Linked DNA regions of Homo sapiens. The protein of the gene in region 1 purifies or fractionates together with the protein of each later gene. This does not show direct contact. Each region holds a gene or a part of one and is shown in the gene's direction. Other genes may lie near its edges.

Region 1 (7,203 bases):
CGGAAAATATTCACTGACTAACATATCTAAAGTAGCCCCACTACAGTTATTTTTTATCCCACTTGTTTTACTTTCTTCCTAACATTTTCTGAATGGATCTACCTAAATGTCCAATGTAGTTTAAAACATATTTGAATCTAATGGTTAGAATTCTGTTAGTTAATAATTTCTTTTGGAAAGAAACACTGTATCTTTCCTGTGGCTGCCCTCTCCCTCTGAGTGAGTATCTAAAATAACGTCTGCATTTATGAGGCATTATGACTTTGGGGAAGCCTGAGACCTTGAATCTATTCGGAGTCCCTGACCTCTCAGGATGCTCTACAGCCTGTTGTTAAGAGAGTGGAATGTTTTGTAGCCTGGCCTCGCTAAGTTTGCTCAGAGCCTGAAGGCAAACCACACAGCTCTTCCTGAGGTCTGGCTGTTACTACTTTTTGTTCCTGGCCCAGTGTAATTTACAGAGCTACTTCCTCCTATACTTGCCAGCCAGCATTCTTGGCTACTTTCCGTATTCTTCTACAGGGTATGTGGGAACTTCTGGATATCTTCTCTCGCAGGAGCTAAGGACCACTCACTTGCAGAGCTCCGCCCAAAACCCTGTACCTAATTTTGTGTATGTAATTCTGTGTTCTTTTTCTTAAAAACAAAACAAAACAAACAAACAAAAAAACCCTCCCTCTCCCCCCATCATGTAAGCTTCAAGATCTGTAAAACCTGGATTCATCTCTGGCTGAGAGACACTCTGAGGAGCTAAATGCAGACCTGCTCTTTTTTCCCAACTACATCAGGGCATGACTTTTGCTCATATGTGGCTGTCTGCTTGTTGGTATGGGCATAGTCTGCAAGTCATCTCTACTTGGAATCTTAAACAGGAGCAGAGTAAGAATCCTCTCTGCCTTGAAGAGCTGGAATGGGAAGACAGGAGCACATGTCTCTCAATGATGCCTCTCTTACTTTTCTCTTTGTTCTTCTTCTCTCTACCCTTTTATTAAAAGAGTCAGACTTTTCTTTTATTTCCCTATATGCAGCCTCATGGCTTAGCTGTCCTGGATGGAAGGATATTTGGGTGGAAGGCATTTCCTGTGGAGTATGTAAAAACTCTATGAAATTATTATGTGCTGAGCTTCATAGATTAAATGGAACTAAGAAAATTTAGCAAATTCTTTTTCTCTCCATTCTGTTCTCTCCTGATTGGGAAAATAAGTCTCAAGGCTACATTTCAAGCAAGAGTCTATGACAGAAGATGACTTAAGAAAGTTAAAAGAAATCTGTTTGATATTTGCAAGATACTAGCCCCATTATAGTCTAGTTTTTTTTTTTTTTTTTTTTTGAAACAAGTCAGAGCACTGAACTTGTAGGTGAAATATCCCATTTAAAATGTTGATATATGATTTAACTTTTTTTTTTTAAAAAAAAGATAATGGCCGGGCGCGGTGGCTCACGCCTGTAATCCCAGCACTTTGGGAGGCCGAGGCAGGCGGATCACAAGGTCAGGGGATCAAGACCCTCCTGGCTAACACAGTGAAACCCAGTCTGTACTAAAAATACAAAAAGTTAGCCGGGCATGGTGGCGGGTGCCTGTAGTTCCAGCTACTCGGGAGGCTGAGGCAGAAGAATGGTGTGAACCCGGGAGGCGGAGCTTGCAGTGAGCCCAGATCGCGCCACTGCACTCTAGCTCGATGACAGAGTGAGACTCTGTCTCAAAAAATAATAATAATAATAATAATGATACTCATATGGTATTAGGAACCAACAGTGTTCTAGGAGATTTAGAGATGTTAACTAATTTAATCCTCTTGGTGTCCCATTTTACAGATAAGGAAAGTGAGGCACAGGACAATTACCTTGACCAAGATCATATAGCTATACACAATACAAATCAAATGCATTTCTGTGGGACAGATTTGGTCACAAGGCCACCAATTTACAATGTCTACTTTACGATATTTCAAATAAGTCAGAAAGAACAAGGCTTTGAATTCTGACTTGGCCTCTGTGCTGAATGATCTTGGACTAGTCACTTAAGCTCTGTGAATCCTTCTATAAAATTATGATTAACTTTTCAGTGCTCACTAAATGGTTTTCTCTTGTCTTATTCCTCCATATGGATGACTGCCCTGAACATTCATGTTATGCTTGTATATTATCTGAAATGCACAAATCCCACCTATTATTCGAGACCTAACACATTGCTAATACCTCCAGAAACAGTCTGTGTAGGACAGAGCCCTGAGGATCAAGATGTCTGTTTCAGTCTTGATACTGTTACTAATCCTGTGTGTGATCTCAAGCAAATCATATCTTCTCTAAGCCTCAGAGGCTTCATCTTGAAAATGTGGAGTTAGACTAAACTAATAAGTTTAAACTGTGATCTGAGAAACTCAACATTTCTGTAATGATGGGAGGGGGCATGAAAGGAGAGAGAGTGCAAGGGTGAAGCTGGGTGAATAGACTAGTGGGTTCCCCACTTACACTCCCAACTTAGCAGCTCCACATTTTAAACCACCAGATTTTATTAGAAGGGAGTATTCCACTGCCAATAAAACAGGTGGAAACCACTACAAGTTTTATGTAGCCACATTCCCTGGAATTATCTTTTCTTGGCTCCTCTTTTCTTTCTTGTCCTGGACATGGAACTAAAGGGAACATGTTTTTAAAATTCTGGCTGAAATGAACATATTTCTTTGTCCTTCTTTCTTCTCTCCTACCGAGGAGTGAAATTAAAGACAGTGCTAAAGGCATAAGCAAGGCCAGTATGGAAACTTCCAGCAATTTCACCAAAAGTTTTCAGCAAAATATTACAGATTAGAAAACATCTGTTTCAGAATAGCTACCAAGTGCTAAATAAAACAGAAAACAGAAGTTACATCTCATTATCCTGTGACTTCAGGAGTTATCATTCCCACTTGAATATGTCTTGTCATGGGAAATGACCTTCAGGAGGCATCTTCTTTGTATTTCTTACTATATGTCTCCCCACTGTCCCTGAACTATCATTATAAACTTAATTTTTTCTGCACCCAAAGCTTGTGGGAACTAGAATGAACAGAAGAGGAATGAATGAAGCCCTCATTCTTTTCAGCGATTTTCAGCTTAGGACCCAGTTTTGGAACAAGATAGACCCAAATCTACTTCCTGGTTTCCTGCTTAGAAATAAGATGCTTATCCTTTAAGGCAGATTGTCAAGCTCCTTCAATAGAGGTGAATGAGGACACCCATCATCTGCAAATCATTACATCTTCACAAGAGAATTATGATATTCTCCAAATACCATGAAACTTCAATTTTTAATCTTCTAGGGATATCAAATTAAACCAAATTTATCTCTCGCCTGAAGACAGCCTGGAGGACTGAGACTGTAATCTTGATTCCAACTCCACACCAGCCATTAGTTACATTGGGACAAATTCCTTCCCATGATCAGGCTGCAATTTTATCATTGGGAGCACTGGAGTAAATGGTTCCCTAAGATCCTTCTCCATTTTGATGTTCTAAGGATAAATTACTATTGAAGAAATTATTTCCAGTTGTTGGTTCAATCTTCAAAATCACCAAAAGCTTTGATTTTAAGGTGAGGTTATAGGAGTTGGCTCTTGATATTCTATGCCTTGTGCTTCAGAACAGGCAGTCGAAAGGGAGGAAAGTTGGTTTTCCTTGAGATGACTGTCTTGTTCCCTCATTGGTTTGGGATTCTTCATGTTCAGAGGTCCACTGAGAACTTCAGCTTACCATGACTTTCCCTCTTCAATGGTACCACTGTAGTCAGGTGTAAGATGGTGATGTGGAACCCTTCACTGACATTGCACCCAATTCTCCAGATTGTCTTTCCAGTAATTTCTTTCATTTCTCCTTCATCCCTGCGTCATGGTCCCTTTAAGGGAGCGGCCATAGTTGAGTGGTGGGAGCAGCTGCTGGCAGCAAAGAGACTTGCAGGATTTGGCCTACCCATGGCCACTTACCGCGCACGCTCAGGACCGGGGGCTTGGTGGGAAAGGAAGGAGGGACTTAGGGTGCGCCTGCGCATCAGGGGCGCGCGCAAGGGGCTGATTTGGTGATCCCTTTAAGAAACCGCAGGCGGAGGAATTTCTCTGAGAGAAAATAATCCTACTCACGGGGCCCCTTGGAGGCCATTAACCCCCCGAGTCCCGGCCCCCACCCCGTCCCCGGGCAGGCCCTCCCGCCCACGCGCGGACCCGTGGGATCTCAGAAGCTGCGGCCCGGCGCGCGGCATCCGCCCCCTCCCCACTCTCGGCGCAAGGCCCGGCCGGGTCCGGGGAAGCTGCCGCGAGGCGGCCGTGCCTGCAGTGTGGGCGGGGGCCGGGGGGCCGAGAGGTACCGCCGCCACCGCGCGGGGAGCCGCAGCGGTTCCGAGCGGGGCCCAACATGGCGGAGAGAGAGGTGGAGTCCGGCCCCCGAAAGAGGGTAGGTGAGGTGAGGCAGAACTCGGGCGGCGGGGGGCGGGGCGCGGCCCGGGGCCGGGAATGGGCCATACTCAGGTTCGTGGAGGGGTCGCCGAGGCCCAGTTAGGACAAGGTTGCGGGCAGGTCTGAGGCAGCCTTGGGTCCGGAGCGCGCTGGCGAGCGGTCCCTCGGCAGGTGGGACAAAGATTTGGTGCTGGGTGGGGGGGAGGGGAGGGGGCCGTTGTTTGCCTTCCTCCCCCCGACGTTCCCCAGCACTGGGGTGGGATATCTAGGCCCAGGGAGGGGAGGTGTCAGATTCTTAAGTGCATCTTTAGTGCATCTTTAGTACATCAGAGTCTGGAAGTTAACTGGGGAGAGGTCAGGTGGGGGTGGTGGTGGCGGGAATAAGTCGTGGAGGGGTCTCAGGAGAAATAACCGGAGGGTTCTTCAGTAACACCATCGCGAATTCATTTTCCTGCCTCCTTTCCCCTCCCCCCATAGCCGTTATCTAGACCAAAGTCGGGGTGGTGGTCTTACCTGTGAAGAAGTGGGATCGTTGGCATGTCCTGATTTAGGAGAAAGATTTTGGCTACTATGAATGTCATGTTCTAGCCTAGCCTCTTACTCGCAATTAGGGACTTGGAAGAATACGACAAGTTTTCTCATAACAGGGATGTACCCAATCAACCTGCAGAGGTGAAGCCAATTCTACATAGGAGTTGTTTGAATACCTTTTAAAGTTTGTCTGGAAACTTTCCTTATTTAATTCTGAGTGGTTTTTTTCAGATGGCGAACAATACTGTACTATCGATTGAGCAATATCCCTCACTTTTCTTTTACTTCCTCCCCGCTTAGCATGATAAGAAGTAAGTTTCCTTTTAGGAGTCTTCCTTTTGGGAATGGTTTCAGAAACGATCAATTAGCAAAAGGGCAAAAAATTACTACTTTATGAAGAATGCCCTTTCAGCTTAGCGTAAAATTAGTAATCTCGTAATGATGCTACAGCTGATGTTTTGAGTGCTTACTGTGTGCCTGGCACTGAGCTAAGACCTTTATGTGAAGAATTTAACTTCATAGTAACTCCTCCTAGAACCTATTTGCAGATGAGGAAATTTAGGTGTTGAGGGCTTAAGTAATTTACTTAGATCACACAGCTAGTTGCAAGGTTGAGGTAGGATTTGAATCCAGGTTTGTCCCAACTATAGTGCCTGTGTGGGATGCCACAGAGGAGTTTCTTTAATCTGTGTTTCTCTCCTTAAAAGCTTAAATTGTAAATGACCAAAGAAGTGTCAAGTATTATTTTTTCCAACAATTTATTAGGAAAATATTTTGAACTATCCGTCAATATTATAAAACTTACGGGGAGCAGTCATACACCCAACCGCCTAGATCCTACTGTTAACATTGCATTCCGGACATGCACAGCGGCTCACGCCTGTAATCCCAGCACTTTGGGAGGCCGAGGCGGCAGGATCACTTGAGGCCAGGAGTTCGAGACCAGCCTGGCCAACATGGTGAAACCCCGTCTCTACTAAAAATACAAAAAATTAACCCGGCGTGGTGGCGGGTGCCTGTAATCCCAGCTATTCGGGAGGCTGAGGCAGGGGAATCGCTTGAACCTGGGAGGCGGTGGTAGCAGGGAGGCGGTGGTAGCAGTGAGCCGAGATCGTGCTACTGCACTCTAGCCTAGGTGACAGAGGGAGGCACTGTCTCAAAACCCCCTCCAAAAAAAAAATTGCATTCCACTTGTTTTATCATATATTTACCCCTCTATCCCTCTTTCTGTTCATCAGTCGTGTTATTTTAATGCATTTCATCGTAGTGTTTTGAACAATAAATTTTTACCATTGATAAGTTTACGAAATGTTGGATTCACCTAATGCAATAATTAGTCATAGAGCAAGTTAAGCTGTATGATGGTATGTCCAAATAGTTTTGTAAGTATAAATGTTGTGTATGGAATGCATGTGTTTTGAAATTTTAAAATTTTCAAGTTGTGTTCAGTTTTGAACTAGATCCTTACTGTGCTTGGATGAAGGCATATGGCATATAGTCCACCAATGAAAATATACAGGGTAAATTACTTAAGATATGTAATGTTAATTCAGGGAGATTTCTGCATCCAGTTGCTGTGAATGTTGTCATTCACCTTCTGTACTAGGATGTTCTAGGATATTCTAGAAAACATTGATGTGTGTTGACAACAAATTCAACTAGATTTTAAATATATTCTGCCTCTTGTCGTACACTTAAAAGATGTTACTGGTCTTGTGAATCTTCTGCTAAAGGAATGCTGGAAAAAAAAAAAAAGATACCATACTGGTAGCAGTAAAAACTTTATTATTATTATTATTTTTGAGACAGAGTCTTGCTCTGTTGCCCAGGCTAGAGTGCGGTGGCGCAATCTCGGCTCGTTGCAACCTCCGCCTCCCGGGTTCAATTAATTCTCCTGCTTCAGCCTCCCAAGTAGCTGGGATTACAGGCAAGCACCACCATGCCTGGCTAATTTTTGTATTTTTAGTAAAGATGGGATTTTGCCATGTTGGCCAGGCTGATCTCGAACTCCTGACCTCTGGTGATCAGCACACCTCGGCTTCCCAAAGTGCTGGGATTACAGGTGTGAGCTACCGGGCCTGGCCCAAAAGTTAATTTTATTTTTAACAACCTATAACATACGCAGGACTTGTATAGGTTTCCCCCATTATTTTGCCAGTTTCATCACAGAGGAAAATTACATTCATTGATTTTTGGAATTAATGGTGTGGTGGCACATGCTTCTAGTCCTCGCTATTCAGAGGTTGAGGTG
Region 2 (7,276 bases), on another chromosome or scaffold:
CCCTGCAGGTCCGGTGTTTGTGGAGCTGCCCGTTGACGTGCTGTACCCCTACTTCATGGTCCAGAAGGAGATGGTGCCAGCCAAGCCACCCAAGGGCCTCGTGGGCCGAGTGGTCTCCTGGTGAATAGCCCCACCCCTGCCATTCCCTCCTTTATCCCCCGTTCTCTCCTGCAGCTTCCAGCCCACACCCATCCTCCTTTGATTCACATGTGGACTGGGAGGAGACAGCTGGGGGGAGAGCATTCCAGGTAGAAGGAACAGCATGTGCAAAGGTCCTGAGGCAGGAATGAACTGGGTGGGTAGGGAAAGCAAGGCGGCCCTCGTGGAGGCAGCAAAGGGGAGAGGCTCAGGACAGCCCTCCTCCTCCTCCTTTTCCCTTTCTTCTCCTCCTCCATCATCTCTTCTTCCTCCTCTTCCTCCTCCCTCTTCCTTCCTCTTCTCCTCCCTTTCCCCCACCACCTTTCCCATCGTCCTCTCCGTTTTCCTCCTCCTAAAGGATGATCCTTGAACCTCGGAAGGGAGGTTCATTCTTACATTTACAGAGGAGGAAGCTCAGAAAGGTGAAGTCACTTGCCCAAAGTCACACAGCTAAGAAGTGGCAGAGCCCAGGCCGGGTGCGGTGGCTCTCACTTGTAATCCCAGCACATTGGGAGGCCGAGGTGGGCAGATCACGAGGTCAGGAGATCGAGACCATCCTGGCTAACATGGTGAAACCCCATCTCTACTAAAAATACAAAAAAAAAAAAAATTAGCCGGGCGTGGTGGCGGGCGCCTGTAGTCCCAGCTACTTGGGAGGCTGCGGCAGGAGAATGGCGTGAACCCAGGAGGTGGAGCTTGCAGTGAGCCAAGATCGTGCTACTGCACTCCAGCCTGGGTGACAGAGCAAGACTCCGTCTCAAAAAAAAAAAAAAAAGTGGCAGAGCCCAGACTCGAGCCCTCTCCTTCCTCCTCCTTTCCTTCCCTCACATCTTTGTCCTTTTCTTTCTTTTTTTTTTTTTTTGAAACAGATTCTTCGTTCTGTTGCCTAGGCTTGAGTGCAGTGGCGTGATCTCGGCTCACTGCAACCTCCGCCTCCCCCTGGGTTCAAGTGATTTTCCTGCCTCAGCCTTCTGAGTAGCTGGGACTACAGGCGCCCGCCACCACACCTGGCTAATACTTGTATTTTTAGTAGAGACGAGGTTTCATCATGTTGGCCAGGCTGGTCTTGAACTCTTAACCTCAAGTGATCCACCCTCCTCGGCCTCTCAAACATTACAGACATGAGCCACTGCGCCTGGCCTCTTCTCTTCTTCTTCTTCCTTTCCTTTCTTCTCCTCCTCCTCTTCCTCTTCTTCCTCCTTCTCTCCCTTCCCCTCAGTCCCTTCCCTTTGCCTGTCCTTGGCCCTTCCTTTCCATACATTTAGCGAGCGGCAGCCATGTGCCAGGTTCCAGGACAGGCACGGGGCATCATCAGTGGACAAGGTAGTCAGGCTCCTGTACTCCGGATGTGTGTGAAGCGCCTGAGGGTCAGCTCAGGCAGTAGTGATTTTGTTCTATGGCCTCTTTATTTTTTTTGAGACGGAGTCTCGCTTTGTCCCCCAGGTTGGAGCGCAGTAGTGCGATCTTGGCTCACTGCAACCTCCACCTCCCGGGTTCAAGTGATTCTCCTGCCTCAGCCCCCGGAGTAGCTGGGAATACAGGTGCAGTCCACCATACCCAGCTAATTTTTGTATTTTTAGTAGAGATGAGGTTTCACCATTTTGGTCATATAGCCTCATTCTTAATGCACTTTGCCCCCTGGCTTCCCAGTCAGTCCCTCCCCTTGTTCTCCTTGCCCCTCTCTCTTGGGCTGCCTCTCACAAGGCTATCTCTTATCTTGCCTTTTTTGTTTTGTTTTGTTTTGAGACAGGGCCTCACTCTATCACCCAGGCTGGAGTGCAGTGGTATGATCATAGCTCACCACAGCCTTGAACTCCTGGCCTCGAGCAATCCTCCTGCCTCAGCCTCCCTTGCCTTTTCTTTACTTGCGGGGCTTCCCACGGTTCCATCCTGGGCTGCTTCTGTGCTGTCTTGGCCTGTCCTTAACGGTGAAAGCAGAGGCTTCTGACTCTGAGCTCCGACTGTTTCCTGCCAATGCCCATGTGTCTGTCTTTCGCTGGATAGAGCGCCCCCTGAGGGGAGGGCTGGGCAGGATCTATCTTTGTGTCTCCAGGGCCCTGCACAGGTCCTTCAGGAAAGTTGGGGCCCTGGGGCCCAGTGAGCAAGGAGACCGAGAAGACCCTGTTTGAAGCAGGAGAGGACAGTGTTCAGAACTCCCATGCAAAGCGCCTCATGTCCTAAGTGGACAGATCCTTGAACCTGGGGAGGGAGGTTCATATTTACATTGACAGAGGTGGAAGCTCAGAAGGGTGAAGTCACTTGCCCTAAGTTGCACAGCTAGGAAGTGACAGAGCCAGGACTTGAGCTCACATCTGTTGGACCCACAGGCTTAATCCTGGCATGCTGAGCCTGCGTTCCTTGCTTCTGGGGGGCTACGTGGAGTTGGGGTGGACCCCAGAGGCTACCGAGGGCAAACAGGCAGTTGAAGACCTGGCCACTAGGGTTCGTCTGTCCCTGAGGTGTCACTCATCCACCCTGTCCCCATGCCACTTTGCTCCTGGCTTTTCTCCCGGCCCCTTTCCTTGCTCAGATCCTGGAATCCTTGTAGTTAGTTAATTCTGGCAACTTGGTTTCTTCCCCCTCCCTTTTGCAGGTATTTAGAGAATTACCTGGCCAACCTCTTTGCAGGAGCCTGGGAGCCTCAGCCCGAGGGACCGCTGCCCCTGGACATCCCCCAGGCTTCCCCGCAGCAGGTGAATTGCCTCTCTTTTGTGTCTGAGGACCCTACCCTCTCCCTGAGGGGAGAGGGCCCCCTGACCCTCTCCCTGAGTCAGTACTGGGGCCTTAATCTTGGGTGCTCATGGCGACTCAAGGGCGGCCCTTTGGCTGGACGCGGTGGCTCACAGCAGCAATCCCAACACTTAGGGAGGCCGAGGCAGGCGGATCACTTGAGGCCAGGAGTTCAAGACTAGCCTGGCCAACATGGTGAAACCCTGTCTCTACTGAAAATACAAAAGTTAGCCAGGCATGGTGGCACGCGCCTGTAATCCCAGCTACTCTGGAGGCTGAGGCGGGAGAATCGTTTGAACCTGGGAGGTGGAGGCTGCAGTGAGCTGAGATCATGCCATTACACTCTATCCTGGGCAACAGAGTGAAACTGTGTCTCAAAAAAATAAATAAATAAAAAGACAGCCCTTTGATCCCCACCTCTCGCTCCAGGTTCAGCGCTGTGTGGAGATCCTGAGCCGGGCCAAGAGGCCTCTGATGGTGCTGGGGAGTCAGGCCCTGCTCACCCCAACGTCTGCCGACAAGCTTCGGTGAGAAGCGCCAGCCCTGCCCTTGTTTTCACGTTCCCAGTCCCCAGTCCTCGGGTGCTCTTGGGGAGGCGGGAGGCCCCGGCCACACTGACCTCTGCTCTGCCTGGACTCCCAGGGCTGCCGTGGAGACCTTGGGTGTTCCCTGCTTCCTTGGAGGGATGGCACGGGGGCTGTTAGGCCGCAACCACCCCCTCCACATCCGGGAGAACCGCAGTGCGGCCCTGAAGAAGGCGGATGTCATTGTCCTAGCAGGTGGGCCTGAGCCTCTTCCTTTCCCTCCTTCCCCCAGGAACCCCCTCACCCTGTTACCCAGCTTCACACGAAGGAGGAGGAAGGTCTAGTGGGCACCTATTGTACTTGATACACATTTTCACATAAAGCGCTTTGAACCCAACCAGACGCATAATAGGTGTATCAGATAGCTACTGCCCTGTAACAACCATCCCCAAACTCAATGGCTAAAAATGCATTTCTGATTTCTCAAGATCCACCTATAAGGTAGGTGGTAGCTGTGGTTTTGGCTGGGCTCATTCATGAGTCTGCACTTGGGTTAGGCAGGAAGGCAGCTGTGCTGATCCAGGCTGGGCTTGCTCACCTGTATGGGGATTGGCTGGCCCTGCAGCTCGTCTGGGATGGCCTCAGCTGGGGTCATAGAGTTCTTCACCCCTGTCTCCATGGCCCCCTTGTTTCTCATCCTCCAGTAGGCTAGCCTGGGCTGGCCGACTTGGTGAAGGATGAGAAAACTATGGGGCTAGGAGAGTGCGGTTATTCAAGAGAGTGAGTGGAGGCTGTGTGGCTTCTTGAAGTAGAGTCTGCAGGAATGGGGGGTGGGGGTCCTGAATCATCTGGAGGTGTCTTCACTCAGAGGTCTTGCAATTGACGCCAGCTGTTGGAGGGGCTGTGGACTAGGGCAACTACACAGGTCTCTATGTGTGGCTCCGGTTTCCTCCCAGCATGATGGCCTCAGGGTAGTCAGACTTCTTAGACAGAGAGCACATTCCTTGGCCCCACCCAGGCCTCTAAAAGTGAACAAGGAAGAAACTGCATATCTTCCTTGTTGGGTGTCATGGTGTGTCACTTTCAAGGAAAGGGGACCTAGGCTGCACCTCTCTCCATGGGAGGCATGTCAAGGTGACCTTGTACAAATGGATGTAGGGTGGGAGATATTATGGCCATCTGGGAAAATATAACCTGCCTCTGCCCTATCCTGTTGGCCAAAGCATGTCATGAGGCCAGTCCCGATTCAGGGGGTGTGGGGAGCTGCAAGGTCACTGTAGGTGGCACAGGTGCAGGGAGACTCGGTGAGGAACAGGGACTCATTTGCATCCAGTCCACCACAGTGGATCAAGTAAGGTAGACGACATGGGGCCTCTGCCTACTGCATTCCTGTCCCCCACACCAGGAACTGTGTGTGACTTCCGCCTATCCTATGGCCGTGTCCTCAGCCACAGCAGCAAGATCATCATCGTCAATCGTAATCGGGAAGAGATGTTGCTCAACTCAGACATCTTCTGGAAGCCCCAGGAGGCTGTGCAGGGTGAGCCCCTTAATCCCCCCGTACACATATGTGCTCCTCCCAGTCCCTCTCCTCCTGGTTTCTGCTGCAGCTGGCTTGAGCCTGGTACAGTGATTGAGGCCCAGACCTTGCCCTAGGGGTAGCCAGTCAACCAGAGACAAATAGTTGGCTCTCAAACTGATGAATGCTTCTTTCTTTAAATTTTTTTTATTTTTATTTTTTAGAGACGAGGTCTCGCTCTGTCACCCAGGCTGGAATGCAGTAGTGCAATCACAGCTCACTGCACCCTCAAACTCCCAGGCTCAAAAGCAATCCTCCCACCTCAGCCTCCTGAGTAGCTGGGACTACAAGTATGCACCACCATGCCAGGCTAATTTGTTAATTTTTTTTTGTGGAATCAGCATCTCACTGTGTTGCCCAGGTTGGCGTGGAACTCCTGGCCTCAAGTGATCCTCCTGCCTCGGCCTCTCAAAAGTGCTGGGATTACAGACCAGAGCTACTGCGCCCGGCCTGATAGATGCTTCTGTAGGAACAAATGGTGGGGTGGACACAGAGGGAGGCTTGAAAACGTGCATGTGATCACGTTCCCTCCCACACTGCCCACTGCCCTCAGGACAGAGAGCACACTCGTTGGCCCCTTAGCCTGTCTTCCTGCCGTATCTCTCCCCTCCCCTTATTTTAGTCCCCTTGGACTTGAACTTGGTTCATCATTCTGAGGATGTTGACTCCCCTGCAGCCTAGGCGACAGGACACTCTTGTATTAAGCAGAGAAGTAGCACCGTTGCATCTGTGTTGGGAAGGTCCACTCAGCAGCCATGGACGGCAGGCCGGAAGGGGGCTGGGTGGAGGCCAGGGGGGCTGCTCAAAATGGCCAGGACAGAAGCGAGGAGGCCTGAACTGGAGATGAACAGCGGCAGAGCCTCACCTTCTCAGAGCCTCCATTTGATCATTTGAAAAATGGGGTGGTGAAAGATACATCACGGGGCTGTTTGTTAGTTCACTTCAGTAACGTTCGCTGTGCGCTTCCACGTGCCTGGATTTGAGAGATGTGCTTGGTGGATGTAGCTCTTTTCATTGAGTGTTTCCCAGGCAGAAGGAGGTGGAGGGAGGGGACGAGGCCAGCTTGGGTTTGTCACCTGCCTTGTGCTCCTTAACCCTTGTTTCTTGGGCCTTGTCTTCCCTTTTCACCTGGGCTGCCCTCCCCTGGTTCTGGCAGGTTCTGGGGTGTTTCACCTGTTTTTTTTCTAGGAGCACCCCTGGCCTGCTTCCCGTCTGCCTGCTCGGATGCTGCTGCTGGCTTCCTGCTGTTTTGAGGCCTCTGATGCTGGAAGAACAGGAGGAAGCCAGCTCCCCACAGCTGTGTCCTCTTCCTTCCCCAGGAGATGTGGGTTCCTTCGTGCTGAAGTTAGTGGAGGGCCTTCAGGGCCAGACCTGGGCCCCAGACTGGGTGGAGGAGCTGCGGGAAGCCGACCGGCAGAAGGAGCAGACCTTTCGGTGGGGCCTGGGTGGAGTGGATGTGGGAAGGGGGTTCCCGGCAGACCCTGCTGCCAACCCTGGTGACCTTCGCTGTCCTGTCGCAGGGAGAAGGCAGCGATGCCTGTGGCCCAGCACCTGAACCCAGTGCAGGTGCTGCAGCTGGTGGAGGAAACGCTACCTGACAACTCAATTCTGGTGGTGGATGGCGGGGACTTCGTGGGCACTGCTGCCCATCTGGTACAGCCCCGCGGCCCCCTGCGCTGGCTCGATCCTGGTAAGGAAGGGCCCCCGCCTGGGGCAGTGGGCACCATCCATCAGGACGCCTTCACACCCACCTGCTCTTGGTCCTCTTAGGGGCCTTTGGGACTCTGGGAGTTGGTGCAGGATTTGCACTTGGGGCCAAGCTGTGCCGGCCAGATGCTGAGGTGAGGCACTGGAGTTGGGAGACTTGCTGCTCTCTAGGTCCTGATCCACCCTAACCATCCTGGGTCCCCTCCCGACTAGGTCTGGTGCCTGTTTGGGGACGGAGCTTTTGGCTACAGCCTCATCGAATTTGATACATTCGTCAGACACAAGGTGACTGGGCTGGCCTGAGGGAAGCTTAGGGCCTGGGGTTCTGGGAGATGTCACCAGGGGTGGGCTGAGGTGGGGAGGGAGCCTCCTCTCTGGCAGAGGCCCTATCCCTGTCTCTGTCCTCTGGCTGGCCAAGCCATGGGGCTGAAGGCTGCGGCCTGCCTTCATCATCTTCCTGTAGATCCCAGTGATGGCCTTGGTAGGGAATGATGCTGGCTGGACACAGATTTCTCGGGAGCAGGTGCCCTCTCTGGGCAGCAACGTGGCCTGTGGCCTGGCCTACACTGGTGAGGGGGCCTCAGCGAGGTTGGGAGGA

Evidence for each region.
Region 2: the proteins of ZMYM4 (region 1) and HACL2 purify together in Homo sapiens (affinity purification with mass spectrometry; 2 studies listed by BioGRID and IntAct, with this or other methods). This does not show direct contact.

What each region holds. Positions count from the first base shown.
Region 1 is NC_000001.11:35,264,667-35,271,869, forward strand, and holds the start of ZMYM4 (zinc finger MYM-type protein 4), read left to right. Parts: upstream 1-4,042; 5' UTR 4,043-4,380; coding exon 4,381-4,419; coding exon of another isoform or gene 4,420-4,428; intron 4,429-7,203. UniProt on the Homo sapiens protein: Plays a role in the regulation of cell morphology and cytoskeletal organization.
Region 2 is NC_000019.10:15,115,537-15,122,812, reverse strand, and holds part of HACL2 (2-hydroxyacyl-CoA lyase 2), read left to right. Parts: intron 1-8; coding exon 9-120; intron 121-2,731; coding exon 2,732-2,831; intron 2,832-3,297; coding exon 3,298-3,395; intron 3,396-3,510; coding exon 3,511-3,647; intron 3,648-4,797; coding exon 4,798-4,932; intron 4,933-6,290; coding exon 6,291-6,405; intron 6,406-6,491; coding exon 6,492-6,661; intron 6,662-6,741; coding exon 6,742-6,812; intron 6,813-6,891; coding exon 6,892-6,963; intron 6,964-7,141; coding exon 7,142-7,247; intron 7,248-7,276. UniProt on the Homo sapiens protein: Endoplasmic reticulum 2-OH acyl-CoA lyase involved in the cleavage (C1 removal) reaction in the fatty acid alpha-oxydation in a thiamine pyrophosphate (TPP)-dependent manner. Involved in the phytosphingosine degradation pathway.